Linked DNA regions of Homo sapiens: region 2 is linked to region 1. Evidence: fine-mapped expression QTL. A gene starts in region 1. The other region holds a variant in brackets. All regions are shown on one strand. Distances are between the middles of the regions.

Region 1 (14,986 bases):
ATTCATGTCTCTCTGGGCCTGATATATTTTGCATACCTCACGTAGATCAGATTGCTCTGAGCTATTTCTCTTTTTCTCATGGATAATAGTATTTTTCTCATAGGGTTTTCATAAAGATTAAATAAGAAATAGCAAATTGCATATAGTGTCTAGTACAGAGTAAGTGTTCAATAACAGTTATGATGAAATGATTACAGTAATTGAGAAGAGAAAGGAGAGATAGGAGAGAGGAGTAAAGTTCCCTAAGAAGGCAAAGATGTATCCCTCCTAAGCGCAGGTAGTGGAATTAACTCTGCATTCACCAGGGGATAGGAAACTTTTCCCTTCACCCTTTGAAGGTTCTCTGAAAACTGACAAAAGGCAGATTAATAGGAGAAAAGGCATACACAATTTTATTTTCACGTGGCTAGCCTGGGGGAATCGCAGAATGGTGACCCAACAACGCACTATTATACAGAAGCTTATGTACCTGTTTTCAGAGGGGAGAGATGTATTGACTTGGGAGGTGGGAGGCAGATGATATAGAAAGGCAAAGGACAGGTTGGGTGCGGTGGCTCATACCTGTAATGTCAGCACTTCGGGAGGCTGAGGTGGACGGATCACCTGAAGTCAGGAGTTTGAGATCCACCTGGCCAACAGGGTAAAACCCTGACTCTACTAAAAATGCAAGAATTAGCCGGATGTGGTGGTGGGCATCTATAATCCCAGCTACTTGGGAGGCTGAGGCAAGAGAATCACTTGAACCCAGGAGGTGGAGGTTGCAGTGAGCCCAGATCTCACCACTGCACTCCAGCCTGGGCAACAGAGTGAGACTCCGTCTCAAAAAAAAAAAAGAAAGGCAAGGACCAGAGCTGCACAGAAACAAAGTCTGTCTTATTATGTAGATAAAGATTTTATGTAGATAAAATCTCTCAGTGCTGCTCTCAGATGAACAGATGAAAAGTCTGTCTGGGTGTGGGGATGACTCCCAGTCTCTTCTCTTCTCTGGTGGTTGATCTTTCCTGGCTATTTGATGAGATTCCTAGGGAGGGAGTCTTAAGACAATTGTATTTAAACTTTCTTCTTCAGATAAGAAATTCCAGAAGGAGTCTTTCTTATTTATTTATTTATTTATTTTTGAGATGGAGTCTCCCTCTGTTGCCTAGGCTGGAGTGCAGTGGCACGATCTTGGCTCATTGCAATCTCCCTCTCCTGGGTTCAAGCGATTCTCCTGCCTCAGACTCCCGAGTAGCTGGGATTACAGGTACCCACCACCACCATGTCTGGCTAATTTTGGTATTTTTAGTAGAGACAGGGTTTCACCATATTAGCCAGGCTGGTCTCGAACTCCTGATCTCAGGTGAGCCACCCGCCTCGGCCTTCCAAAGTGCTGGGATTACAGGTGCGAGCCACCGTGCCTGGCCAAGAATCTTTCTTAGGGTGCTTCTGGAAACAGGATCAGAGAGACAGGAAGGTGGGAGAAGTGGCAGAGAGAGAGAGACCTTTGTTCTCAGGCTTATTTTTGAGGATTTTCAAAAGCACTCAGCGTGGCTATATTTGGGGAATCATTTCTGTGCCCCAATACAGGGAAGAAAAGGGAGAAACACACTAGATCTGGATTTTTTTTTAAATTTTTTTTTTTGAGATGGGGTCTTGCTTTGTCACCCAGGCTGGAGTGCAGTGACACAATCATGGCTCACTGCAACCTTGACCTCCTGGGCTCAAGTGATCCTCCCACTTCAGCCTCCCAAGTAGCTGAGACCACAGGTGTGCACCACCACGCCTGGCTAAACTACTTTTTGTAGAGATGGGGCCTCCTTATGTTGCCCATGCTGGTCTCAAACTCCTGGGCTCAAGTGTTCCTCCTGCTTTGGCCTCCAAAGTTTTGGGATTACAGGCGTGAGCCACTGCGCCTGGCCTAGATCTAGAATCTAAAGCACTTGGCAACTTGAGAATAAGAAAGAGCAGTCAAAGTTGATTATAAAATTTTGAGGCAAGCTGGGTGTGGTGGCACCTGAGTAGTCGGAAACTGTAATTCCAGCTATTCAAGAGAGCACCTTGAGTAGGTGGAACCTGTAATTCCAGCTACTCAAGAGGCTGGAATACATACATTCTAGCTACTCAAGAGGCTGGAATACATACATTCCAGATAAGAAATTCCAGAAAGAGCCTTTCTTATTTATTTATTTATTTATTTTTGATTTATTTTTATTTTATATGTATATATATTTGATGCTAACTGCAAGAGTGGTGTCAATAACAAAAACAGATAAGTAGTTTTCTCTATTTTTTTGGACTACTTTGATGGAAGATAATACATTTTATTTCAACTGTTAAAGTAGGAAATGCTTATAAGACATCCAGATGGAGATATTAAACAATGAGAATGAAGGCCAGGAGATCCAAAGGGGACTTGAAACTGGAGAGAGATTTGAAATAATCTACTTGGTGTTAATAATGATGCTATGGGAGCAAGAGAATTTATTAATTTTGTATTGCTAGTGTATTCTGTACGTGCTGGTCTTGCACATAGCAGGTGTTCAATGAACATGTTTTATTGTTGTTGTTTAAAAAGAAAACAGAATTATCTAGATAATCTACATTTAGGAGAAGAATGAAGACTTGATTGAGGACCCAAAGGATGACCAAGAAGAGGTACAGGAGAAAACCCAGAATTCTGCAGGGTCTTGGCGATGCAAGTGTCAGAGCCATTTGAACCAGAGCTACTCCATCTTGAGTGAGGGCTAAGAAAACTGAGGCTGGGACTTGCTGGGCTGCATTCCCAGGAGGGTAAGTATTCCTAGCCTCTAGGTTAACGGAACAGATTAATAACGTTTACTAACAGACCCAGACTCAGGAATGTCCTGATATCCTGATGTCTTAAAAACAAAAGCACTCCTAATTTTGCTTTAAAGATAAATATCGATCCTTGCAAAATATAGTAATTAAGAAAACTAATTGTTTAAATCACAAACCTTTGTAGTAGAGCAAATCTCCCCATTTTTTTGTTATCCTATATATAAATAAGCATTGTACCTAGGGGTAGGCGCGTTCCTCCTCTTACTTTCAGGAACGCCCTACTCTGTCTATAGAGTAGCTATTCCTTCACCACTTTACTTCCTTAATAAATTTGCTTTTGCTTTGCACTGTGGACTTGCCCCAAATTCTTTCTTCGGTGAGATCCAAGAACCCTCTCTTGGGGTCTGGATCAGGAGCTCTTTCTGGTAACATAAGAAAAGAAAGAGAAATTCATGAAGGAGAGGGTGGTCTACTGTGTGAAATGCCAATGAGAGATTAAGGACCTTGTGGACTGAGAAACTTTTTGGAATTGGCCAATTCTTCAAAATACAAGCTCCATGAGGGCAGATGTTTTTTCAGAGGCAGGATCTTACTTATTGCCCAGATTGGAGGGCAGTGGCTATTCACAGGCACAATCACAGTGCACTGCAGCCTCAAATCCCTAGGCTCAAGTGATGCTCTTGTCTCAGCCTCACAAGTAGCTGGAACTACAGACGTGTGCCTGGGCTTCCGCTGAGAGCAGATATTTTTGACTGTTAGAAGACTGCCTATAACATCGTAGGTACTCAACAATAAATACTGTGAACAAAAATTCTCTGAAAAGGAATTTAGAAGAAAGAAACTATTCCAATGAACAGTTTGCAAATAGGGGAGACACAGCCTTTGGTACAAAAGGAAGGTACATGCCAGAGAACAAAGGGAGGGATTGTTTTTATATAGAAAGTACCTACCCAGGTTCCCATGCTCCTCCATTTATGTAGATGAAGGATGCAAACTTGCTTAGATCTGATTGCCTGATGTTTGCTGAGTTTTGATTGGTTGACATAGGTTACAGCTTATTGGTTGGTTCAGGTGCCTAAACAGGAACAGGCAGCTATGAAAGTTGCAAAGTTAAGGAAAAGCCTGTAAGGAACTCAGAGTACATGTGTGATCTCTAATCAGCAAATGGCCCATTGGCTCTATTTTCAATTCAGGCCCAGTTAGACACTAAGGATTTATCTTGAAGGACTGGCTTTTTCAGGTTTCACAACGCAGAACAAATGAACTGGTGATATTTCAGAAAACACTTTCAGAAAACTGTTGGGCACAGAAGCCAAATCTTAAGTATTCAATAGAGTTGCCACTTTCCTAAAAAATATCCAGCTATTTCTCATCTGTTTTCCCCATGTAGTCAGAGTGATTTAATGCAGTTGTGTGATAATGGCTCACTGCAGCGTCGACCTCCCAGGCTCAAGCTATTATCCCACCTCAGCCTCTTAGGTAGCTGGGACTACAGGCATATGCCACTATGTCTGGCTAATTTTTAAAATTTTTTGTAGAGACGGGGTCTCACTATGTTGTCCAGGTTGGTTTTGAACTCCCAAGCTCAAGTGATCCTCCTGCCTTGGCCTCCCAAAGAGTTGGGATTATGGGTGTTAGCCATTGTGCCTGGCCAGAATGACTTTTAAAAAATTAAATCATCAGATCATGTAACTTGCCTTCTGAAAATGTTTCAGTGGATTCCCATTGAATTTAAGATTAAACAAACAAACAGACAAACAAAAAAACCCACACTGCCTGAGACCGTGAACTCTGCACAGCCTGGTCTATATTTTCAACTGTACTGCATACCACTTTACTTCTCCTGCGCTACACTCCAGCCACGTCCTTTAACCAGAGAGGAGAGACAAGTTCTCACCTTTCCCTTCTATTCCTTCGTCATACCAATCTTCTTCCTGCATTAGGGCATTTGCCTGTGGTTCCCTTTGTTTAGAATATGCCATCCCACGACATGTGGTCCCCCACCAGGATCTCCCAGCCAAACTTGCTTCTCATCCTCAGGTTTCTGTTCAATTGTCATTATCACCTCCCCAAAGGGTTCTCATTCCTGTGTACTTGGTTTAAAGTAGTCCTTCCCTCAGCCCCCATTGCTCTCAAATGACCTTGCTTTGTGTCCCTCATAGGACTTGCTTTAAGTCCCTCATAGGACTTCATACAGTTTGGAATTACCTTATCTATTTGTTTATGTGTTTATAATCTGTCTCCTCCCACTAGGATATAAACTATGTAAAGAGAGAGAACATGCAAACTGGGAGGAGAGTAACTGATGAATAAAATTTGAGGAAAAGCAAAAAGGGATGAGATGAAGAACTCAAAGGGAGGAATAAGAGTACCTTTCTTTCTCGGAAAAAAGAGCCGGCTGGGCGCGGTGGCTCACGCCTGTAATCCCAGCACTTTGGGAGGCCGAGGTGGGCAGATTACGAGGTCAGGAGATCGAGACCATCCTGGCTAACACGGTGAAACCCCGTCTCTACTAAAAATACAAAAAAAATTAGCCGGGCGTGGTGGCGGGCGCCTGTAGTCCCAGCTACTCCGGAGGCTGAGACAGGAGAACGGCGTGAACCCGGGAGGCGGAGCTTGCAATGAGCCGAGATCGCGCCACTGCACTCCAGCCTGGGACACGGAGTGAGACTCCGTCTCAAAAAAAAAAAAAGGAAAGAAAGAAGAGCCAAGAACATGGAAGAGAGCAGAAACATCAGGGAGTCTGGGGTGGAACACGTTGTATAACCTGATAAGTTATTTTCCCATCAGCTTTTAATTACATAGTTAAATTGGCTGTGGGAATAGCAGCAAACTATTTGATTTTAGGTTGCCAGCTGGCTCTGGAAGACATGCACGTATATGGGGTGGAGAAAATCCTTTTCCAGATTCTTCTCTCCTTGTCTTTACTAGGCTGAACGAGAAGAATCAGTGGCCCATATTACATATGTAAAAAGGGCTTTGGGAATTGCAAAGGTCTTTACAGATGTGGTTACTGTTATTTTACTTTATGCATGATTCTAAAGGAGGTATGCACCGTCTGAAGTGCCAGGAAGGAGCATCTGGGTGGATGTCCATGATGGCCCCAAAAGGACTTCAGCATTTTTCCTGAGAAACAGTGAGTTCAGATTTACACAGTATTTGTTTTTTATCACAGGCTTTGAAATGACTAAGCATTAAATTCACATAACCCTGCTGTGAAACACATTATCATGTTATTATAACCCCATTTTCTGTTGAAAGGTAGAAATAAGATCTGTTCCAGACTAAACAGGAAGTCAGTAATAAGATTATAGTTACTGGTTAATCTAGGCTTTCTGATTGTGCATACATTACATCTTTTATACACATAAGGTTCAGGATGACAACTACCAGCACCGTGATTGGTGTTCTTTTCTATTCCCTCCCTCTCCCCTCACCCCCACACTAGTGTAGACAACCAAGGTGATATGGTTTGGATTTGTGCCCCCCCCACCCCAATCTCATCTTGAATCGTAACCCCCAGTGTTGGAGGAGGGGCCTGGTAGGAGGTGACTGGATCATGGGGACAGATTTTCCCCTTGCTGTTCTCATGATAGTGAGTGAGTTCTCACGATCTAGTTGTTTAAAAGTGTGTAGCACCGCTGGGCATTGTGGCTCATGCCTGTAATCCCAGCACTTTGGGAGGCTGAGGCGGGTGGATCACAAGGTCAAGAGTTCAAAACCAGCCTGGCCAACATGGTGAAACCCCATCTCTACTAAAAATACAAAAATTAGCTGGGCATGGCGGTGCATGCCTGTGGTCCCAGCTACTCAGGAGGCTGAGGCAGGAGGATTGCTTGAACCCAGGAGGTTGCAGTGACTGAGATCATGCCAGTGCACTCCAGCCTGGGTGGCAGATGAGGCTCCATCTCAAAAAAAAAAAAAGTGTGTAGCACCTCCTCTTTCACTCTATTCCTCCTGCTCCAGCCATGTAGGATGTGCCTGCTTCCCGTTTGCCTTCCACCATGATTGTAAGTTTCCTGAGGCCTCCCCAGCCATGCTTCCTGTATAGCCTGTGGAACTGTGAGCCAATTAAACTTCTTTTCTTTATAAATTACCCAGTCTCAGGTAATTTTTTATAGCAATGTGAGAACAGACTAATACAAAAGGTATGTGTGTATGGTGTGTGAAAGACAGATGAAGAAGATATTAAATATGAGTATTTATAACTATATATAACTATAGTTTATAACTAGTAGCAAACTAGTGCTGCTTTCTAGTATTTGGGATTGCAGATTTTCTTTGCGTGACTGCGCTTCCCTGGGAGATGCTGGCACGGAACTGTGTGTCCTGGGAAGTGGAAGTTGGCAGTGGGTCGGAGGCTGCAGAGTGCACGTGAAGAACCTTCCTGGGCTGCTGATTTAGGGGTTGGGGAGAGCAATGGTGAATGAGGGTGATGATTTAGCTGCTACCACAGAGAGTGAAGATAGTTAATGATTTGTAGTAAATAAGGCTGGAAGAGGCCCACAGGAAACTTTCATAAAAGATAATCGTTCCTTGTCTTCAAAATATTTACAGTTGGTACTATGCTTTTCTTCCCTTCTCTTGTATATTTCTTTTAAAAATCTAATTTGTCATTTTGAAATAGGTCTAGAAAAGTCCATGTCCTATGAGGGTCAAGTGAGGGCTTGACTGACGCACTGAAGGTTTGGCTCTTTTCGTGAGTAACCCTTCACTTCTGATGATGTAGATAAATGACAATGTAGATAAATTGGGAGCCAAAGGTTTTCAGGAATTAGTAATGCCGTGGTAAGCAAACTGTGGCTAGCAATTATGGCAGTGGTTGAGTATGAGGGTGCTGAGAGGAGGCACTTCTGTGTGCTTGCTCAGTTCTCCGGGTGGGGGACTGCCACTAGTACAGGTGCGACTAAGGCAAGCTCCTAAAGCATCTATACTTGCCTACTTCCTAACAGCTTGGGCAGCTTGGGAGCTCTGCAGAGTACACATAGGCCCTTGAACCCCCACTTTTATTTTTTTCTTTCCATTTTTTATTTTAGACTCAAGGGGTAAATGTTCAGGTTTATTACACAGGTAAATTGCATGTTGTGGGGGTTTGGTGTACAGACAGTCTTGTCACCCAGGTAATCAGCATAATACCCTATAGGTAGTTTTTTAATCTTCACCCTCCTCCTACTCTCCACCCTCAAGTAGGCCTCAGTGTCTACTGTTCCCTTATTTGTGTCCATGGGTACTCAGTGTTTATAATTCCACCTGTAAGTGAAAACATGTGGTATTTGATTTTCTGTTCCTGCATTAATTCATTTTGGATAATGGCCTCCAGCTCTACCTGTGTTGCTGCAAAGGACATGGTCTCATTCTTTTTTGTGGCTGTGTAGTATTCCATGGTGTACCACATTTTCTTTATCCAGTCCACCGATGGGCATCTAGGTTACTTCCATGTCTTTTTATTGTGAATAGTGCTGCGATGAACATACACGTGCATGTGTCCTTTTTTTTTTTGAGGCAGTTTGTTGCCCAGGCTGGAGTGCAGTGGCATGATCTTGGCTCACTGCAACCTGTCTCCCAGGCTCAATTGATCCTCGCACCTCAGCATCCCAAGTAGCTGGGACTACAGGCACTCGCCACTATGCCCAGCTAGTGTGTGTGTGTGTGTGTGTGTGTGTGTGTGTGTGTGTGTGTTTGCCATGTTGCCCCGGCTGGTCTCCAACTCCTGAGCTCAGGGTGATCCGCCTGCCTCAGCCGCCCAAAGTGCTGGGATTACAGGCGTGAGTCACTGCACCTGGCTGTGCATGTGTCTTTACGGTAGAACAATTTATATTCTTTTGGGTATATACCCAGCAATGGGATTGCTGTGGACCCCCAATTTTAATGACAGTACTTTCCCTATTTTAAAGGACTCCTATGATGCTTTAAAATCATGTGTGAAACGTAGGAGATTGAAAGAAAAAAAAAGACTCCTATGATTCTTTCATGTCCAACCAACTTAGGCTAGAAAGAAGGAAAATCAAATAGGCAGGCACTGTGGCTCACACCTGTAATCCCAGCACTTTGGAAGGCCGAGGTGGGCAGATCACCTGAGGTCGGGAGTTTGAGACCAGCCTGACCAACATGGAGAAACCCCGTCTCTACTAAAAATACTAAATTAGCCAGGTGTGGTGGTGCATGCCTGTCATCCCTGCTACTTGGGAGGCTGAGGCAGGAGAATCGCTTGAACCTGGGAGGCGGAGGTTACAGGGAGCTGAGATAGCGCCATTGCATTCCAGCCTCGGCAACAAGAACAAAACATCGTCTCAAAAAAAGGAAAATAAAAAAGGGCAGCCCAGTTCTGATTACAGCCGACTAAATGCAGTTACTCATCAATTACTTTATAGTCTCAGAAATATGCACCCATTAAGATTCAGCACATGTATAAATAAACTTATGTACCTAATGTTTACACACACCTTACTACTAACCCTACACTGAATGTATGGTTTATTCTTGCCACTGTTGTATCTTTCTAGACTCACACATTACCATCAATATGCTGCCTTTTATTTGTTGTAGAGAGTATCCCAGAGTTGGAAGATCCTGAATTTGAAGCCTGTTTCTCCCATTATTATATGGCTTTCAGGAAGGGGAACCATCTGAAGAGAAAGGGTAGGTAGACTCAGAAGACCAGTGGCCTTATAAAACCGTAATTCCGGCCAGGTGTGGTGGCTCACGCCTGTAATCCCAGCACTTTCGGAGGTTGACGCGGGGGCGGATCACGAGGTCAAGAGATCAAGACCATCCTGGCCAACATGGTGAAAGCCTGTCTCTACTAAAAATACAAAATTAGCCGGGTGTGGTGGCGCATGCCTGTAATCCCAGCCACTCGGGAGGCTGAGGCAGGAGAATCCTTTGAACTCAGGAGGCGGAGGTTGCAGTGAGCCCAGATAGCGCCACTGCACTGCAGCCTGGGCGACAAGAGCGATACTCCATCTCAAAACCAACCAACCAAACAAAAACAAAGATTGTAAATGTTTGTTTGGTTTGCCCTGGAAAGAGAAGGCTTCTACTTAGAGTCTGAATCAAGGAGGAAAAGGAAAGAAAACAAGTTCATCTTTCATCAAAAGTCTACTTTGCATCGGACACTTAAATTCCTAAATGGGGAGAAATGCAAAAAACTCTGACTCTTCAGAGTCATAACTAACATTATCTTGCGCCACAAGCTTATCAAGAGTGCAATACAAGTCAGTGTCTTCTCTTTTCTACTTAAAAGAAAATTCTCGTTTTTATTTATTACTTTATTGCAAGGAGAAGCAGACAATAAGTAGGAGTCTTATGAGGCGTTCTGATGCATAGGAGCAATGGTGAATGAGGGTGGTGACTCACCACCCCATGGGACTCCAAGGTTTTGGTGACAGCTCGCCTGAGCCCCAGGGGGTGCCGAGATTGCGGCGAGGAGAGCCGCAGCACAAGGCAAATCCACGCGGTTGGTCCCCGCTACGCCCCCGTAGTCACCCGCAGCCCCTCGCCAAAGGGCGCTCCGCGCATGCGCACAGGATCCGGCTCGGGAGGCGGACCCTGGCTGCCATCTTGCAGTGCGCGGGAACCGCCGCCGCCGCCGCTGGCCAAAAAGCGGAGCCCAGGGGAAGCGTGTCCTGCTCAGACCGCCTTCCTTCTCCATTGCCACCCGTGCCGAACAGCCAGGCTGCCCAATTGCAACTGTAGACCAATGAACTAATCCATCGCCCGCAGCCCGACTCTCAGCAGCGGTTCGTCCCGGTGCCCACCCCCGCGAAGCGGAGCGCCCGGGCACCTAGCCTCCCTGCCGGCCACCTAGCCTCCCTGCCGGCCACGATGCCGAACGTGCTGCTGCCGCCCAAGGAGAGCAACCTCTTCAAACGCATCTTGGTGAGTGGCCGTAGGCCGCGCTGCCGCCCCCCGGTCCCCGGGTCCTCGGGCCTTAAGGGCAAGCGGTCTGGCGGCGGCCGGCGCGGGCCAGGCTTGGCCTCCGCTGCCCACCGCTCTTTGTTTACCTCGGAGGTCGCGGGACCCCACTTTCCCGCTCCGGCCGGCCCACGGGGGCTGCCGAGCCGCTCCTCCGTGCGCTTCCTTTCCGCGGTCTTCTGCGGCTCGCCTCACCCCCGCCGCGCTCTTTCCAGAAACTTCACGCCGCTCTCCGCAGTGCCCGGGCACAGCCGCCTCGGCCGGTAGTGGCTGCCGTGCTCTCTGCCGCGCCGGGCTCGCAGCAGCCCCTCAGGGATCCTCCCCCGGTGGTTTATTTTGCCAGTCTCTCCTCGGCTAGGTGTTTTGCGTTCTGCATTCTCTGCTTTGCGTTTAGTTAGATTGCACAGCACACCCGCATACCTATTAAAGCGGGATCGATGCGATGGTGGAATTTTTCCTGGTTACGAGGAAATAAAACCGGCAACTTTAGGAAGCCAGGCCTGGCACCACCTCCCTTTGGGAAAAAGTTTGCCTGTTTGTAATGTACCTTATTTACCTCTTTGGAAGTGAATATTTGACTTGAAGTGCGTTTCTGAGTTGTCACCAACTTCAAAACAGCTGTTTGCTTTTTAGTCGCACAGGCCTTGCTTGAGTAATTAAAGCCGCGTGGACTGGCTGGTTTTGCATTTGAGGGGAGCATTTTTACTTTATCGCGGAGCAGAAGCCTGAATAATGGCCCCGTAGTGATGACCGCTGCGGAGCCGGGTGGGCAGTTTTCTGTGGGCTGTGTGCCAGCGTCCCTGGTAGCTTTCCAGGTTCTGTTCTTCCAAGGAGAAGAGGCAGCATTCCTTTGCTTTCCTCAGTATCCTCTGGCTACCCTAGGTTTTAAACTAATATTGTTAGTAGGTAACTGTCTTTTCTAGTTTATCTTTTCACCTGAAAAAAAGCTTTTATTTGCTAAACATGCATTTAGGTTTAAAGGTGAATTTATTGAAAGCTGGGTTGGCTATATGGCTGTTAGTTGTTGCTTAACTTTACTATAAATAAAATACTAATTTTAGAGTAATTTTAAGTATGAACAGCGGCAGATAATTCATAGTAGCTGTTCTGTTTCAAGACGATAGAAACTTCACACTTAGTCTTCAGATTAGGATACATAGTAGATGGGATAAAAATTTTAAATATTATGTGGTGCTTAGTTTTGAACCAATAATAAGATACAAATGTGAGAACATTAAAAATACGAATAATTAAAGCACGTGGCAGGTTGCTTCATTGGGCTTTGTATTTTTTTATTTTACTTCTCATGCCCTTTTATTTTACACAGCATGGAATTGGAGAAGTAATTTATTTATTTTTATTTTTAATTTTTTTTTGCCCTGGGAATCTGAAACATTAATGATAATATCATTTATAAATCGCTAGTTGGATTTCAGGACATTTGGCATCATACTTTAAAGATGACAGCACTTCTTTTCTCTTTATACGAGTTTTTTGTAGTTCAAATCATGGATCAGTGTCATAAGGAAAAAGTTACATTATTATTCTTAAATTACAAAAAAGGTAGGGTTTATCCCCAAATAAATTGGGAAATGGTAACCACTAAAAAAAAATCAATTATTTTGAGATGGAAGTCTCGGTTTGTTGGCCAGGCTACTGTCGAATTCCTGGCTTGAAGCGATCTTCCCACCTCAGCCTCCCAAATTGCTGGGATTACAGATGTGAGCTACTGTGCTCAGCCAAGCTAAACATTTTTAAATCTAGGTATGTAATGTTTCTGACAAGGTTGCGTGAATTTAGGAGGATTCTGCATAAACGAATGATTTTATCATTTCACAATTGCAATAAATGTGGGTAAAATTTGGCTACAACAAATTCCATAGCAAACAGAAGTCTCTGTAATAAAATTATCTTTAAAGTTTAGTGGATTAAAGTGCTTTGCCACCAACAGTAAAATTTTTTCTATTGAAAAAATTCAAACACATCCACACAAACTGACCAGCTGGTTTTTTACGTGTTCCACGTGGCTTGTATCTGCATGTCTTATTCCCCAGACTGGATATTAATTAGCATTACAGTTTGTTGAATTTTGGAGGTATTCCATGCCCTCTTTTAGAAAGAGACAAACCTAAAGATGGTAAATGACCAAGTGGCTAAGGTTCTCTGTCTGGTTAGTAGCAAAGTTGAGACTAGAATCTATCATTTCTGCTTAGTATATAATGGTTCCTGAGTGAATGTAGATTTGTCTTTTTTTTTTTTTTGCGAGAGTGTATCGCTTTGTCGCCCAGGCTGGAGTGCAGTGGCAAGATCTCACTGCAACCTCTGCCTCCCAGATTCAAGCGATTCTCGTGCCTCAGCCTCCTGAGTAGCTGAGATTACAGGTTGACTTGTCTTTACCCGAGTACTTGGACTCTGGGGACAGACTACCTGGTTAAGAGTTGTGGCTCTGGCACTTAATAGTTATATAAACTCTATAACTATGCCTCAGTTTCTCTATCTAAATGGGGATATCATGCATCTCATAGGCTTTCCTGGGATTTAAATAAAGAGTAAATAAGCTGTCATGGGATGAAGGAAAAAAATAACAGTGTCTGGACGTATAGTAAATGCTTCCAATAGGTGTTAACTATTATTACTGTTATTGGCAGTATGATTATTATTATTTTCAGATAACCTGGTAAGTCAGAAAAACTAGTATTTCTATTTGTCTTTCTCAGTAGTTCCTTTCTCTTGTTTTTTTCTTGTCATTTGTGAGACAGACTTGTAGTCAAACTCAGATTGTCATTTTTTATTTTAAAATATTTTTGGAATAGGCAGTATATTCACATGGTTCAAAATTTAGGTTTCTCTCCTATCCTTATCGCAGAATCACCTAGTTCCCTTCCCCAGAGGCTGTCAAGAGGCCTCAATATAAACTTTTTTTCCATGAAGACTTTTCTAATTCCTTCCACATCCAGCCCCTGCTGCAAGGCTTAAAGATGGTCTCATCCATTGCTAGTGGCATTTTGCTTTGAACTTAGTAGGCTGTATTTATGGAGCAGTTTCTTATTTGTTTAGCCATGGCAATGCAGCAGTATGTAAAATAGGCTAAGGCCGGCGCAGTGGCTCATGCCTGTAATCCCAGCACTTTGGGAGGCTGAGGTGGGAGCTAGGATCACTTGAGCCCAGGAGCAAAAGACCAACATAGTGAGACTTCATCTCTACCAAAAATAAAAAAATAAAAAAAAATTTAGCCAGGCATGATGGCACACACCTGTAGTCCTTCCTATCCACTCAGGAGGCTAAGGTGGGAAGATCACTTGAGCTCAGCAGTTTGAGGTTATGGTGATTGTGTCACTGCACACCAGCTTGGGCAACAGAGTGAGACTGTCTCTAAAAAATAAATAAGAAAGATAGGTGAGATCATTGTTCTAAGGATCCATTATATGATGGTGGGGAAGACAGACACTAAATAATAGCATAAATAAGATTTCAGGAAATGATAGCACTGTGTGGAAAATAGAGTAACATGGTAGAGAATATGTTGGGGAAGGAAGGAGGATGGGAGTATTTGATAAAGTGGGCAAGTAGGGGACATGTGAGACTTGGATAATGAGGAACCATCCATGGGAAGATCTAGGAAAGCAATTCAGGCAGAAGGAACACAAGTGTAGGAGGCCTGAGGTGGGGATAAGCTTGGCATGTTGAGTAATTTAACACCCAGTGTGACTGAACAATGTAAGCCAGGGAAGAGTGGAAAGCAATGGGGTGTTCTTCGCATCAGTGGCTGCCAGGGAGAGATGTTAATTGTGTACCCTGGCTGGTGGCATTCGGAAATAAAGATGTTGCTTATCCTTGCATTGGACTAATGATGGTCTTTGGAGTAAGATCAGAGTTTGCAGCTAAGCTGAGCAGCTTATAAACAAGTTTTTGAACCTCTGGAGTTTCAGTTTCCACATCTCTGAAGTGGAAGTAATGACACCTACATTAAAGAATTGGTATTAAGTAAGAGATTACAAATTTTTTACAGACATATCATAGCTGCTCAATAAGTGGTAGTATTTGTGTGTGTGTGTGTATGCGTGCACACACCCATGCACTTTGGTTTCATTCTTGCGGTAGCAAAGGCTTTTAGTGCAGTTTCTGGTATTTTTCTGTTGCCACATATGTTTTTGCTTAAATTTTTTTTTTGAGATGGTGTCTTGCTCTACTGCCCAGGCTGAGTGCAGTGGCACAGTCATGCCTTACTGCAGCCTCAGCCTCGTGGGCTCAAGTGATCCTCCCACCTCAGCCTCCCAAGCAGTTAGGACCACAG
Region 2 (14,986 bases), 250 kb after region 1:
GGGCCCTTTTGGGAGACTTTCTGGGCAAGGCTTTACCAGATTGCATTTAAAAATAATCTTTCAAATATGCTTCACCTTCAAAGCCAGGCTAGAGATGGAGAGGCATAAAGCGTGACCAGGAGGATTCAATGTTTTCTTGGAGAGTCTGATTTGATTTCAGTGCTGAGTAGGAGGAGAATGTCCTGCAGCCCCTCTCTGTTTCACCTTAATTTGTAAGGACAGGGGTGTTTCTTCCCCCCCACAGTGCCTAGACCTTTGCTAAGCACAGTTGGAATCAGCAAACATCAAGAAGCACTGAAGATGCACTTGCTGATCGAAGGTAATTGCTCTCGACCTTGGCCGAATACTAGGAAACTTTAAAAATCATGGATGCCTGGCTCCCACCCCCACATTCTGGCAATTGGCCTGGAGTAGGACCCGACAGAAACTCCCCTGTGATTCTACTGTGCAGGCGAGGTGAGGCCTCCTGCCCCGATGCCTGCTCCTCCGCTCCTACCAGCCCTGCTGGATTGAGCCTGACTTTGCCTCAGCTCGGGTGTGCTCACAGGGGTGTCCAGCCAGCTGCCTCTTGTCACCACCATGACCTGGACAAGCCCTGCTGCTTCCCAGTACATTCGGACAACGGGACCGGAGGAAAGAGGATCTCAGTTGGAGAGTCCAAGGTGCCTCAAATCAAAAGATAAAACTTGCAGATGGCTGCCAATGGCTCGGGAAGACACCGCTAAAGTCATGTCATGCCATAACTGGGACTGCATCTGTGAGGGAGGAGCATGACCTTGGAGGCAGAAGGTCAAGGTCAAGGCTCACCCATTCTACTCCATGTGCTTGGCTTCCCCATCTCCATAAATGGCAGCTTCATGTTTTCAGTATTGCAAGCCAGTGGACTTATGGTCATCTTTGATTCCTCTTTCTCTCACATTTCACATCTAATCCATCAGCAAATCTTGTTGGCTCCACATTCCAAATATATCCGGACTCTGACGGCTGCTCACCACCTCTGCTAGCATCTTGTCAGGTCTGAATTACCGCAACCACCTCCTAACTGGTCCCTCTGAGTCCATCCCTGGCCCGTCACAGTCTATTCTCATCGTGGCACCCAGAGCAGTCCTTTCAAAATGCAATTCGGAGTATGTCACCCTTCTGTTCAGAACCTTCACTGGATTCTAAACTTACATCGTGGGACATCCCAAATTTTTACTGTAATCTCTAAGACTGGCCAGGTCTGGTGCCTGCTGTCTCCTGGGCTCATTTTCTGCTGCTCTCCTCCTCATTTATGCCAATCTGGCCACCCCAGCCTCCTTGCTGTTCTCTAAGATTCCCACGGTCCCACTGCAAGGCCTTTGCACTTGCTGTTCCCTCTGAGTAGAACACCCTTCTTGATATTTGCACAGCTCACTGCCTTCCTTCCTTCAGGTTTGTCTTCAGTTATTATCTTATCAGAGAGGCCTCCCTGTGTACCTTACTTAAAATAGTGTCCCCTAACCGAATTCTAACGCTTTTTTTTTTTTTTTAATTTTTTTTGGAGGCAAGGTCTCACTCTGTTGCCCAGGCTGGAGTGCAGTAGCCTGATCACAGCTCACTGCAGCCCTGACCTCCTGGGCTCAAGCAATCCTTCCACCTCAGCCTCCCAAGTAGCTGGGACTACAGGCATGCACCACCACACTTGCCTAATTTTTGTATTTTTTTGTAGAGTCGGGGTCTCACTGTCTTACCTGGGCTGGTCTCAATCTCCTGGGCTCAAGTGATCCTCTCAACTCAGCCTCCCAAAGTGCTGAGATTACAGGTATGAGCCACCTTTTTCCTTTCATTCTCAGAATCTGTCACCACCCACATATTATACATTTACTTGTTTACTTGCAGGCTCTTTCCCCTAGAATGTGTGTTCCCTAAGAGCAAGTTCACTGTGGTGCCTCCAGCACCCAGGATAGTGTCTGAAACACAGCAAGTGCTCAGCAAATATTTGCTGAATGCATGAGTACATGTATGAGGAAAAGCAGTTGCAAAGAAGATTCCAGGGTGGGTCTTTTGGGAGGTCATGTGAACCAGACCTTAAAAGACTGAGGGTGAGCATGTAGGGGTGGAGCGAGAGGCTTTTCCAGAAAAGGGGATAAACAGCTGTCAAGTTGGTCAGGAGCTCAGGCCAGCGGTGGGAGTGTGGGTGTGAGTGGAGCATCTGGATGGAGCTGTGCGCGCCCAGCTCATGAACCCCCCTCAGAGCTACTGAGGCTGAGCTGATGTGCTTGGGAGCCCTGTGCAGCCAGGAGAAGGCACTGCATGGGCGTCCAGGTTAACTGCATGACTCAATTGCTCTCTCAGTTTGATACCACAGACCACATAGCCTCCAGGTTTAGTTTCTCAGAACCACTCATGAAGGTCCTACTAACCAGGGCTGACCTCTGGAGGTGAGTGGAGCTGGTGTGGTTTAAAGGGATGGATTTTTCTGCCTCCCCCAACCTGGCTGAGGCCTGAGATGGCTTTTGTTGCCTTTGGGCTTTGTGGACCTCACTTGGCCTTGTGAGCATAATTGCATTCAGCCCCTCCAGGAGTGGTAACACGTTCGGGGTAGGGAGCGGACACTGAGGTGGTGCACTGTGGGAGACAGGGAGGGAAAGGTAGGTTTTGAGTCTGAGGAACTGACTATAACCCAGGCTGGGGCCCAGCCAGGAGGCTGTTTGGGTACAAACTCAGTCTTGCGAGGATTGCACGGCTGTGTGCTCACAAACACGGCCAGGCAGCTACTGAACATCCATCACCAGCTCCTTCCTGTGTCTGGTGACAACAAGTTGCCTGTGTACCTATTAGTGCCAGGTAATGTCAGGTACTTTACCACATTACCTGGTTAATCATCTCCAAAAAATTATGGAAAGATAAGAAATTCATTGTGCAGTTGGGGAAATGGAGGCATAGAAAACTTCCTTAAGCTGGGTGATGTCAGTGAAAATGGTGGAATAAGGACCTCAAAAAACACTCTTCTCCATAAAGGCAATATGAATCCTGGCAAAAATGGTCAGAATTCAACTTTTCCGAAACTCTGGAAATTTAGTAAACACTTACAGCAATCTGGGTAGCATTTACTTAAGAAAAATGGCTGAATCTTAGTAAGAGCAGTAAGCATTGTGATGTTCTAACTTGCTCCATTAGAAATAATAAACAAGTTCCGGGCATAAGATCGATACATAAAAGTCAATTGTATTTTTTTACATGAGCAAGGAATAACCTGAAAATGAAATTAAGAAAATAATTTCATATACAATAGCATTAAAAAGAATACAATACTTAGGAATAAATTTTGAAAAGAAGTGTAAGTCTTATACACTGAAAACTCCAAAACATTGGTGAAAGAAATTAAAGAAGAGCTAAATAAATGGAAAGACATCCTGTGTTCATGGATTGAGTTACTTAATATTGTTAGATGGCAAGACTCCCCAAATCGATCTACAGATCAACGGAATCTTTACCAAAATCCCAGCTGGCTTTTTTGCAGAAATGACAAACAAATCCTAAAGTTTATATGGAAGTTCTAGGGACCCATGACAGCCAAAATAACCTTGGAGAAGAAGAACGAAGTTTGAGGACTTATACTTTCCAATTTCAAAACTTACTACAAAGCTACAATAACCAGGACTGTATAGTAGTGGCATAAGGATAGACACATAAATCACTGGAATAGAATTGAGAGTCCAGAAATAAGCCCATACATTTATTTGTGGGTCAATTATGTTTGGACAAGGATACTAAAACAATTCAATTGGGAAATAATTGTCTTTTCAACAAGTAGTGCTGGGAAAATTGGATATTCACATATAAAAGAATGAAGTTGGACCCCTACTTCACACTATAAACTAAAATTAACTCAAAATGGATCAAAGACCTAAATGGCTAAACTGTAAAATTATTAAAAGAAAAAACATACATGTAAACCTTCATGACCTTGGATTAGGCCATGGTTTCTTAGCTATGACACCAAAAATGCAAGCAAACAAAAACAAATAGATAAATTGAACTTCATCAAAATTAAAAACTTTTATGCTTCAAAGGACACTATCAAGAAAGTGAAAAGACAACCCACAAAATGGGGGAAGTATTTGCAAATCATATATCTTATAATGGTCTAGTATTTGGAATACATAAAGGATTCTTACAACTGAACAATAAATAGACCAATAACCAATTAAAAATGGGCAAAGGATTTGAATAGACATTTCTCCAAAGAAGATATACAAATGACCAATAAACACATACAGAAGTGCCCAATATTGGGCTGGGCATGGTGGCTCACCCCTGTAATCCCTACACTTTGGGATGCTGAGGTGGGCAGATTGCTTGAGTCCAGGAGTTTGAGACCAGCCTGGGCAACATGGCAAAACCCCATCTCTACAAAAAATACAAAAATTAGCTGGGTGTGGTGGCACACGCCTGTAATCCCAGCTACTCAGGAGGATAAGGCAGGAGAATTGCTTGAGCCTGGGAGGGGGAGGTTGCAGTGAGCCGAGATCATACCACTGCACTCCAGCCTGGGTGACAGAGCAAGATTCCATTAAAAAAAAAAAAAGTTGCTCAATATCATTAGTCGTTAGAAAAATGCAAATTCAAATCACAAGTTACTACTTCCCATCCACTAGGACAGCGATGGTCAAAAAGACAGAGAATAAGTGTTGGCAAGGATGTGGAAAAATTGGAACCCTTTTATTGCTGGTGGGAATGTAAAATGGTATAGCTACTTTGGAAAACAATCAGGCAATTCCTCAAAAAATTAAACGTAGAGTTATCTTACAACCCAGGAATTCCACTCCTAGTTAAATACTCAAGAGAACTGAAAACAGACGTCTGCACGAAAACTTGAACACGAATGTTCATAGCAGCATTATTCATATTCACCAAAAGATCCATTGGCTGATGAATGGATAAACAAAACGTAGAGTATATTGATGTAATTGAATATTATTTGGTTGTAAAAAAAAATGAAATAGTGATTCATGATATAACATGGATGACCCTTGAAAACATTATGGTAAGTGAAGGAAGCAAAAAAAAGTCCCACAATGTATAAATCCATTTGTGTGAAATGTTCAGAACAGGCAAATGCATAGAGACAGAAAGTAAACTAGTGGTGCCAGGAGACAGGAGGAGTGATGCAAAGTAACTACTAGCAAGTATGGGGTGTAGAATTAGGGACTGCTGATGTTTGCACAACTTCGTGAATCTACTCCAAAACGCTGAATTGTACACTTTAAAAGGGTGAGTTTTATTATGTGTATTTTTCAGTACAAAATATAAAAAAATGTTTTATTTTTTAGGACAGAAAACTAGTTAGTATGGGGTCATGATTTGAATCCAATGTCCATGCACTTAAGGTCATCTGCGCCAATACCTCTGGGGCTTGCTAGGCAGCATGTGGTCACTTGGAACTGTCTCAGGTACCCAGAGAAAAATGGTTTCTGTTGGGTGTCACTATGTGCCACTATCTGGGCACAGCTTCCTGGGTATCTGCTTGTCACCAGGGACTGATCTAGACACAAATTCATGTTCAATGTCACACAGCCATCCTTGTCCCTGCCACTACTAAGATTTTGTTACAGGGTCAAGCTTGTGTGTCTGATTTGCTCTTCCGTTGAGTTGGAATTGTTTCCAGTTGTTTTCTCATCTCTCATGTGGATGGATTAGGGGTGGCCAAGCTACCACTCTAGCAGATATGGCAAAATTCCTGCTTGGGCTAAAGCTGAGATGCCTCCTCTGCTGCCCTATTATCATGGGTACTAACAGGAGCCCTGGGAATTTCTTTTCCCTAAGATATTTTAAATAGGGTAGACTTTCTCATCTTTGACCTATCCATACACCCACCACCCACCCACTCATTTATCTGTCCATCCATCCATCCATCCATCCAACCATGCATTCATCCATCCGTCCGTCCCTCTGTCTGTCCATTGTGCATTCATTCCATTTGACTAATCCATGTTGTTCAGGGCTCTTTGCAAAGTGACTGACTGAAGCACAGTTTTGCCTGGGTTGGGGAACATGGGCCAAGTGATTTTCTCTAAAGTCTTCTAGGGATTTATTAATCTAGGTGTCTTATTGGGTTGTGTGCAGGTAGGAATGTTTGGCAGCCATGATGATCTGCCGGAGAATCCCAGGCAGCCTCACAAAGGCTGAGATGATTCTGATGCTCCCTGTTGATTTCCCTTTTTTCTTGTTTTTGTTTAGGCCATAGAACAAGCCATTTTCAACAAAAGGACTTGCAAATTCCTGCCTTAGGGCTCCTTCTGCACAGGACAGACCTTTCATCACCAACCCAACTTGTAATCTTGGGTAAAGAAGGTTCTCAGCTCATTTTCAAGAAGAAAAAAAAAATGTAAGTAAAACAAAACAGCCACATCACGAAGTTGCTCCACATAATGAGGCCTGCTCTGTTGACCTATCATTACCCTGGGCTCCAGGCAGGCCTGGGCTGCCCGGCCAACCTCCCACCTTATCCCTGGCCAGTCAAGGTTGGGGTCAACAGCTGGGCAGCCCAGAGGCCACCACAGTGGCTGTGAGGATAAGGCTGCTTTTCAGGGTCTGGCCTTGCCTAGAGCTGCTTGGCTGGATGGTGGTAGCTGAGGAGGAGGAGAAGAGTCCTCTGAGGCCTGCCAGCTCAGCTACCCTGGGACATTCCAAATCCAGGCTTTTGCTTGAACTACACTTACCCTCCCTTTCTTTTGGGGCTCCTTGACTCTTCTTGGCTCATGTGGGTCTTGCCTGCTTTTCAGAGCCAGAACTTGTTCTGCCTCCCAGGCCCATGGTGCCTCCCCATCCCACAGCTATTTGTTCAGCAAAAATTTATTAACCACTTTTCAGGGCCAGGCCAAAGATAAACAAGACTTGATCCCTGCTCTTGTTCCTCCCACAATAGGGAAGGCCGATATGGAAAGAATGATGAGAGAGTGTGGTGAGCACCTAGGGCCATTCTTACTGCCTCAGGACCACAGAAGCTGGTGTCAAATGCTGTTGAGTTATTTCTCCACACTCTTTTGGTGATGCATCCTGTTTTCCCAGTTGATTGAAAACACCTAGAGGGAAGGGTCTTAAATGTCTTCTCTCATTTTCTGAGTGCCTTGCATGGTGGTGACCCAAGTAATGAAATAGCTGTCCAGCAGCAAGGAACTGTTTCCTTCAATCCAAATTTTACTGGATTTCTTGGTCTTTATTTCAATCTGGGAGCATTAGGTTATGAGAAAAACAACAAACCTAACTAACCTCCTATATTTGTTAGGCTGCTGTGCAAATTGGTGGGGGTCTCTGATCCATACCATCACCCAGTGTCTTAGTCAGCTTGGGCTGCTATAACATATTACTGTGGGTGACTGGGTGGATTAAACCACAAGCATTTATTTCTCACAGTTCTGGAGACTGGGAAGTCCAAGATCAAGGTGCCAGCAGGTCCAGTGTCTGGTAGGAGCTGGCTTCCTGCTTTACAGACAGCAATCTTCCCATTATATCCTCACATGGTGGAGAGTGGGACAGAGCTCTTGTGTCTCTTCTTTTAAATGCACCAATCCCATTAATGAGGCCTTCACCTCATGATTTAATCACCTACCAAAGTCCCCACCTCCTGATACCATCACAGCAGCATTTAGGATTTAACACGGGAATTTTGGGGGAACATAAATATTCAGTCCATAACACCCAGGATCCCAGGTTCATTGAAGCTTTGCTATCTTAGGTAGAGCTACACCATCTAAAACACATAGTTTTCTCCGTCACCCCGATTCTGTGAAAGAGAGCTGGAGGGTTGCCTACTAGCTCTTAAAGGCTTTAGCCCACTATTGACACATCACTTCTGCTCACAGCCCAGTGGCCAGAACCAGTCTCACCGTCCTGACCTAACTGCAAGGGCCCAGAGAAATATGGGAGATGTGTGAGCAGTAAATGACTCTGCCATAGTTCCCAAGCTAGCTTAAGTGAAAAGGGGGTGGCTGGGAGGACACCAAGGCATCTTATGGGTCTCTATCTAGGAAGGGGGTCCATCCAAGCCCCCAAAGGAACCGCAACCAGACGTTGGAAAGTTAGGACCCATAGTCACATTCTTAGAGTTCCAGGGTGCCGTATTTACTTCTCTCTCCTTCAGTCAGCAAGTTGACTTTTTCTTTTTTCTTTTTGGGTAGACTGGTTTTCTTTGCTTTTCAAATACAATGGGAATAAGAACAGTCCCTGTCTGAAGGAGCTGTGAGGATATAATGAGTTTATCCATGTAAAGTGTTCAGGAAGTGCCTGGCGCATGGGAAGTGCTAGGTAAGAGTTAGCTATTGCTATTATTTTATGTAATAATAGTAATATTTTTAATTATTCTCCTTGCATATGCCAAAACATGGCTGCCTAGGCTTAGCCTCTAAGACTCCCCCGAGAAGGAACTGACTAAAGGGACCAGTTCTTTTGGGAGCTGAGTGCCTAACTGAGTCAGGGTTCTCCCTGGGTTTGGGGAGAGGGAACAGGCCAGCATGCCCAGCTAATTTTTAAAAATTTTTCGTTGAGATGGGATCTCCCAGTGTTGCTCAGGCTGGCCTTGAACTCCTGGGCTCAAGTGTTCCTCACGCCTCGGCCTCCCAAATTGTTGGGATTACAGGCATGAGCCACTGTACCCGAAGAGAACCATCTTAAAGAGAAAAAAGAGCTGTTTTTATTTTTTGTTTTTAGAAGGCCACGTTCATTTTTTCAGAGGCACTTGGTCTTTTTAGTGCTAAGGAAATAATACTCAAGGATTTTTAAAAACTGTTACACAACAGCTTCTTCTTAAAGGCTGAATCACAGGCACTTTAGAAAACTTCTTAGTGGAGGAGGCTCCACTGATATGTACTCAATACTTACACTCAACAGGAGGGATATATTTCGATTTTGAGTTTGACAGGCACACACTGATCTCATTTAAGTCCTTACCCAGCTGGAGCTCAGGAATTCCAGTGCGCTTTCCACAAGAACTTCCTCATGTCTTGTCGTGCCGAACAGTGGGGCATGACCCAGGCCCTGTTTCTGCAAGGAAAGAGAAGTGGCTCCCAAGAACTGTAGTGGCCTCTTGGTATAAATTGTTTTCCTAAAGGCCCACAGTACAGGGCAAGAGTTTTCTTGGCAACCCAAATTAGAAATAAAAAAAAAAAAAAGCTGATTTGTTCACATCATCAAATAATGGCCCAGAGGCTGTGGAGTAGATGTCCAATTTCAAAGGCCTTGCCCTTCCTCTGGGCCAGAGGCCTTTCATCACAGCTAGGAAATTACCTCCCTAACATGCATGCTGCGCCTGCCTCCATAACCCAGAGGTCAGAAAGGCAGAGCACTTCTATAAGATGGAGGCAAAAATACAAATGGAAAACTGGGTGTCTCTGCAAAAACAAGACTAAGGAGAACCAAGGCACTGCCATCCAAACCCAACACCGCCTTCAGTGAGTGCTCTCAGGAGGCCTGACAGCAGAATATATGCCCAAGGCAAGAATGTCACCCAAGGTTCCCATATCTCCTGCCCTCACGTTGTGTCCCAGGTCTGGGTTCTCTGCTTGAGTAATGCTCCAAGCTGCAAATGCCCCCAGCCAATTCTATCTCCTCAACCCATCACAGGCCCTCTGTCTAAGGACCTTCCTACCAGTGGGGGTTAGGAGGAAAGCATGGGAATGAAAGAATTTGGACCAAGGGGTGCATGATGGTAGCCCGTCAGGGCAACTTGTAGTTGAAAAGAGAAGCCCCTTTTGCAGGGAAACACCACTGTACAGATAGACTTCAGATGCTGCGGGGCACGGCGCCAGGCCAGCTGTGTGGAGCTGCATTCCAGCCAAGTGACTGAATATCTGCTTTCATGCGGTTTTGTGGAGCTGCTACAATCTTCCACCTCTGCAGAGTATACCCGTTTCTTCCAGTCACCACGAAAGGTCATGCAAAAAGAGATTCTTCAGTTCTGGCACTACATATTTAATATCAAATCTTTGTACTTGAGCCTGCAATGGATGGACATGCATATTCTATCAGCCTTGAAAATAGCTGTTCCAACACTGGAGCCCTGAAGGAAACTTTTCAGTTAAATATTCTCTCTTTGCCAACTGCCAAATAGACAATTTTATTATTCAACCCATGGATCCATTAACTCAACCCTGGCCTTCCCCAGTAGCCCCTGTCATCTGCTCTTCTTTTGTGTGTAACACCCTTGATCTGAGCATCCGCTTGTTGCAGAGGCCCTTGGATTCCCCAGCAGCCTCAGGCTCTGTAGGAGCCACCCCTAGGAGGCAAGTCAATCAGGCTGCTTCCCCAGCTTTGCTATTTGATTTCTGTTGGGGCTGCAAGTGTTCCTTTCTAGGCCATTTTTAGGCCTGAATTTCATATGGGCCATAAAATCTTTTGTAAAAGGAAATGGATCAGCTAGCTTTGTCGAGACTCACTCTATTTCTGGAGTCCTGATGATGAAAGACTTAATTAGTGCTGGAGTAAACAAACGGTCAGTCTCGTTAAATTAGCAGCAGTATTTATTAATATAAACACATTGCACTTGAAAAATCCAA[C/T]TTTAATGTCCCCTCTGAGTAAATATACTTATTTTTCTTCAAGTTTCAATCAGTAAGGCTTCATGTACAGCCATGATGTCATGAGACCAATTACACAGAGTACTCTTGACAGGCTCATGATTTTCTTGCCGTATTCTGGCCTGCGTAAGGAGCAAACTTGCTTTAGGATGTTCAGAGAGACACTGTTCTCTTCCATTTCCAGGTCAAACCCCAGCTACCATGACTTAATGCTTCAGAGCTGCATTTCATATTAATACATTCTTATATTCTGAAACTCCTCTGTGGTCACACTCACCATCTTTGGAGTCTGAATTTATTCACACACTCTGGTTGTTCCTTCAGGGAAGGAGCTAGCAGCCCCAAAGTACTTCCACTGAAGCCTTTGGAAAAGAGGGAAGACTCCAAGTCTCTGGCACCTGCAGAAGAGGGGAATCTTGAGAAGTAGCTGACGCTCCGAGTTTACATGTCCCCTTGGTGAGATTTCTTACAGCAGAACATGACGTTCTTCCCACCCCCAGGATGCAAACCACTTTAAAAGAATGTTATACTTTGCTCTGCGTGGCCAAATACCACAAACACCACTTGATTTTAAAATTATGTAGTCTTGGTATTCCAAAGCCAACGTGCACCACCATGCAAGAACAGATGCGGTCTCTGAAGGCAAAAGCCCCAGGCAGTGCTTAAGTCTCAAAAAAGAGTTGTCATGTCATCCTCAACTTGAGATGTTTGCTTGGCAAGCATTTTTTACTCTCTGGAGGAAATTTTGTTTACAGGATTTAACAGTTACACACACAAACACACACACACACACACACACACACACACACAATTACTCATTGTTCAGCTGCAGAACAAAGGTCAGCTCTTGGCACGCAGTAGTTTTCCAATTCCTGATCCTTTTTGATTTTCAATGTGCCCATCAGCAGACATGTAATTTTATCTTAAGACAGCCAAGTGCAAAGCATGAGACAATAGGCAGAAATCTTGTAAATAACTATCAAACAGAAATAATCCTTTCAGCTGACGAGGGAAAGCCTCCTTTGTTCCATTTTAATGATGTTTATATAAATTTTAGTATGCATATTCAGTCAGTAACATTATTTTAAGGCAGTTGATATAGGTGCCAAAATCCTCTGTGTACTGAGGAGATAGGTTATCTTTTGCATGTGTGGGGTTTTGGAGACAAAAGTTGCACTGAAGTGTGTGGCTCTTGTAAATTATCTCAATTTCCTGTTTGAGATAATGGAGCAGTGGATTTTCACATCCAATCCCTTTAAATCGTAGGTTTAATTCAGTTGAGACCCAGAAGTGATTAGCCCAAGTTTACACAGGCACTTAATAGCTGAGCAGGGTCACAGACAAATTCTACCTAAAGTTTGCAATTACTCCCCATGATAAGCTGGAGAATTGGAATTCCTTTCCATTACCTGTAGTACTTTTGCCATAGTAAGTCTTAGAACAAGAGTAAAGAAAAGGCAATAGGTTTTCATGGCTGGGTGCAGGGGCTCATACTTGTAATCCCAGCACTTTGGGAGGTCAAGGTAGGAGGATTGCTTGAGGCTAGGAGTTTGAGACCAGCCTCAGCAACATGGTGAAACCCCGTCCCTACCAAAAAAAAAAAAAAAAAAAATTAGCTGGGCATGGTGGCATGAACCAGTAGTTCCACCTACTCAGGAGGTTAAGGCAGGAAGATCTCTTGACCCCACGAGGTTGAGGCTTCAGTGAGCTATGATTGTGCCACTGCATTCCAGCCTGAGTGACAGAGCAAGGCCCTATCTCAAAAAAAAAAAAAAAAAAAGAAAAAGGAAAAAGAACCTTATGATATAATCCTGACCAGAAATTGGACTTAAGTATTTTTCAAAGCCATTTATGTTACTGGTTGGAAAAAAATGATAAAAGTGGACATTTTGTTTCTTAATAAGATTAAAAAGCTATGTACGATGTATTAAATATAAGTCGACATTTGATTATTCCTTAGATGCAATTCCAGAAACAAGTTGTCCAGGCAGGAGAGGCTGGCTTAGAATTTGTGGAGTATCTTACAATTGTGGTCATTGGAAACAAATCGAAATGCAGCAAATAAGCCACTATTCCTGTTGTTCCCCTTGTCTGTTTCTCCCAGCTTTATTCACTTAGAAACTTAATTTTGCCTGATCTGACAGGCACAAGAAGGAGCCAGGTGGAGGGAGGCTGGAAGCCTCCAAGGTTGGTCTTTCAGGAACAATGACAATGCTGTCTACTGAAAACCACTTCCAAACGGCTTTCAAAGCCCAGGAGTTTGTTTAGAGAAAATCTTGCTGGCATTGATGGATTTCTTCTCCTCTGACAGTTCACAGGAAAGAGTGTAGTATAAAGAATTAAGTGATTCATTCCAAACATCTGATGGGTTCCCTTCAAGTACTCCCCCTCTGATCCACTTCTTATGGCTGTGCTGAGCCTCCCCATCTGTGATGAGGTCATTTTGTCGGGCACACAGAGGATTCTAGGGGGAATATGCATCATATACTGCAGCTATTCACGGCATTCATTCCTCCTGGCTGCTCATGGGTAACAATGAACCTTCTCAGCATTACATGTGCTTACTAAGGAGACAGGGGTTAGATGCCTTTCAGTGGAACCCCCCGAGGCACACAATGCATTTATTATAATGTCTTGGCCCTAAGAAGGGCCTGGGAACAGCTTGGAGTGGTCTATAATTAAGTACATTTAATAATAAATGCACATACTTCTTAGGTATTGCAAGAAGTGAAAATAAGCTCTTCGTCTTCTCAGTCTCAATTCCCTTTCCCCATCATCCTTCCCCTTCACAAATCAGAAAAGCCAGGAGTACTGTGCTTTTTTAAAAATAGCAATTGCAGAGGATGTCTGGCTGGTCGAGAAAGGTAAATTAAATTACTTGAGAACATTCTTTCCATGTCAAAAAAAATGGCTTCTGCCTCCTCAGGTAGTTACGCATGGGGAGGATTTGCTAAAGGTTGGCTGTTCCTTTAATCTCCCTTGGATTCCACTTCCAAAGGCTTTCAGGGGCAGTGACCCGCTAGCTAAGGGGCATCCCTTGGGGTTAAGCTGCCACTTGGAAGGGCACTTCCTCAGATTGCTGCTGTGCCTAGCAAGGAAGCAGCAGTTAGAAGTGTTCCCCCGACAGTGTCCCATGTCCTCGGTCCCCACACCTCTGAGTGCTCGAATATGGGCAGATAGATAGACTTTCTGAGGAAAGGGAGAGGAAGAGAGCCCTGTGAATGTGGACAGGGTACAAGAAGAGAAGTCACACTGGAAGGAAGAGAAAAAGGCAGCAGGAGTGTGACATGTACATTTGTGAGATGCAGCAAGGGGCGTGGGACTGCGAGGGACGCAAAGGCATTAAGGGGCCTGGAGGCTGGAGGCCCAGCTTTGCCCCTGCCTGGCTGTGAGTGTGGCCTATTTTCTTGAACTTCTCTAAGCCTCAGTTTCTTTACTTGTAAAATGAGGATGTTAATGGTACCATGAATAGTTAGTGAAAGGTCTAGTAACAGGAATCTTGGGAAAGTGACTTAAATTCTCTGAGCCTCACTTTCTTTATCATCTGCAAAATAAGGTAAAAAATACCCCTGTTACATGCATTGTTGTAAGGATGAATGAAATAATGTATGCAATCACTTAGCATATACCTGGTTCACAGTAAATCATCAGTAAATGCTAGCTGCTGTTGTGGCGACCGTTGGAATGCAATTACATTTTTAAAGATACATGTTGGATTGAAATTGTTTGCATCATTGAATGGTTCAATACATGGAGCAGGTGTCTCACTAGAGGAACAAGAAAGCCATGCAAACTCACCAGGTAGTACCACGTTGGAAATCAGATTGCTTTTATTTATTTATTTGATAGTTAATGATAGGGAGAGGGGTGATAGAACAAATGGGTATTATCTTTTCTTCTTTCCTATAATTAATTAAAATGAAATTATGGACCTGTACAATTTCAATAGATATGGATGGATAGGATAATATTATTAATAATAGTTTTTCCAACTTAAGACCAGTTTTTTCAACTCACTGGTGCCCTAACGTTTCTGATTTTGCTATCAATCGTGAAGAGGAGTTTTTAAATTATATGGTTAAAGAGAGAATGACTTTTGCTGAAGCATCTTATTTTAAACAAAGTAATATTGAGCTTATTGATAAAATAAAGGTCAGCCCAAGAGTGTGTGGGAATAAGGTACATTTTGAAAGAAAAGAGAATGAGGCTTTAAAAAAAGTTGTTTTCTTTCTTTTTGTTACAGCTAAAAATTTCCAATCACCATTCACTTCAAATATACCACCTTGATTTTACTTTTTTTACTTTGCTTTAGGTAATTTTTATATGAATATTCTCAATAAATAATTTTCGTGTAAGCATTTATTATTTTGAGCATTACAGTTTGGACCCCAAAATGGAGTACTGTGAATTTTTTGAGAGATGCTAGAAGAACAGAAGAAACAGTAAACTTT

Alleles and levels. Alleles are on the strand shown, and positions count from the first base shown. SD is a standard deviation of normalised expression in the study named.
With allele T in place of C in region 2, the expression in breast of the gene that starts at base 10,341 in region 1 is higher (moderate effect, 0.48 SD a copy in GTEx).

The links.
Region 2: its variant is fine-mapped to the expression of NAA16 in breast (GTEx, PIP 0.94).

The regions. Positions count from the first base shown.
Region 1 is chr13:41,300,927-41,315,912 of GRCh38, forward strand. NAA16 (N-alpha-acetyltransferase 16, NatA auxiliary subunit) reads left to right here and starts at 10,341. Exons shown (of 20, transcript NM_024561.5): 1 at 10,341-10,656. The coding sequence starts at 10,603. It overlaps LOC105370173 (a long non-coding RNA gene), which reads left to right. Exons shown (of 3, transcript XR_001749846.2): 3 at 2,587-3,125. It also overlaps a transcript of MTRF1 not described here.
Region 2 is chr13:41,552,488-41,567,473 of GRCh38, forward strand. It overlaps VWA8 (von Willebrand factor A domain containing 8), which reads right to left. Exons shown (of 45, transcript NM_015058.2): 45 at 14,348-14,986. LOC105370174 (a long non-coding RNA gene) reads left to right here. Exons shown (of 3, transcript XR_941901.2): 2 at 6,205-6,352; 3 at 10,860-11,604. Among named protein-coding and RNA genes, the nearest start is that of MIR5006, 8.4 kb to the right of the region's middle. RefSeq lists a silencer at 1,374-1,565. The variant C/T (reference allele first, on the strand shown) is at 10,518.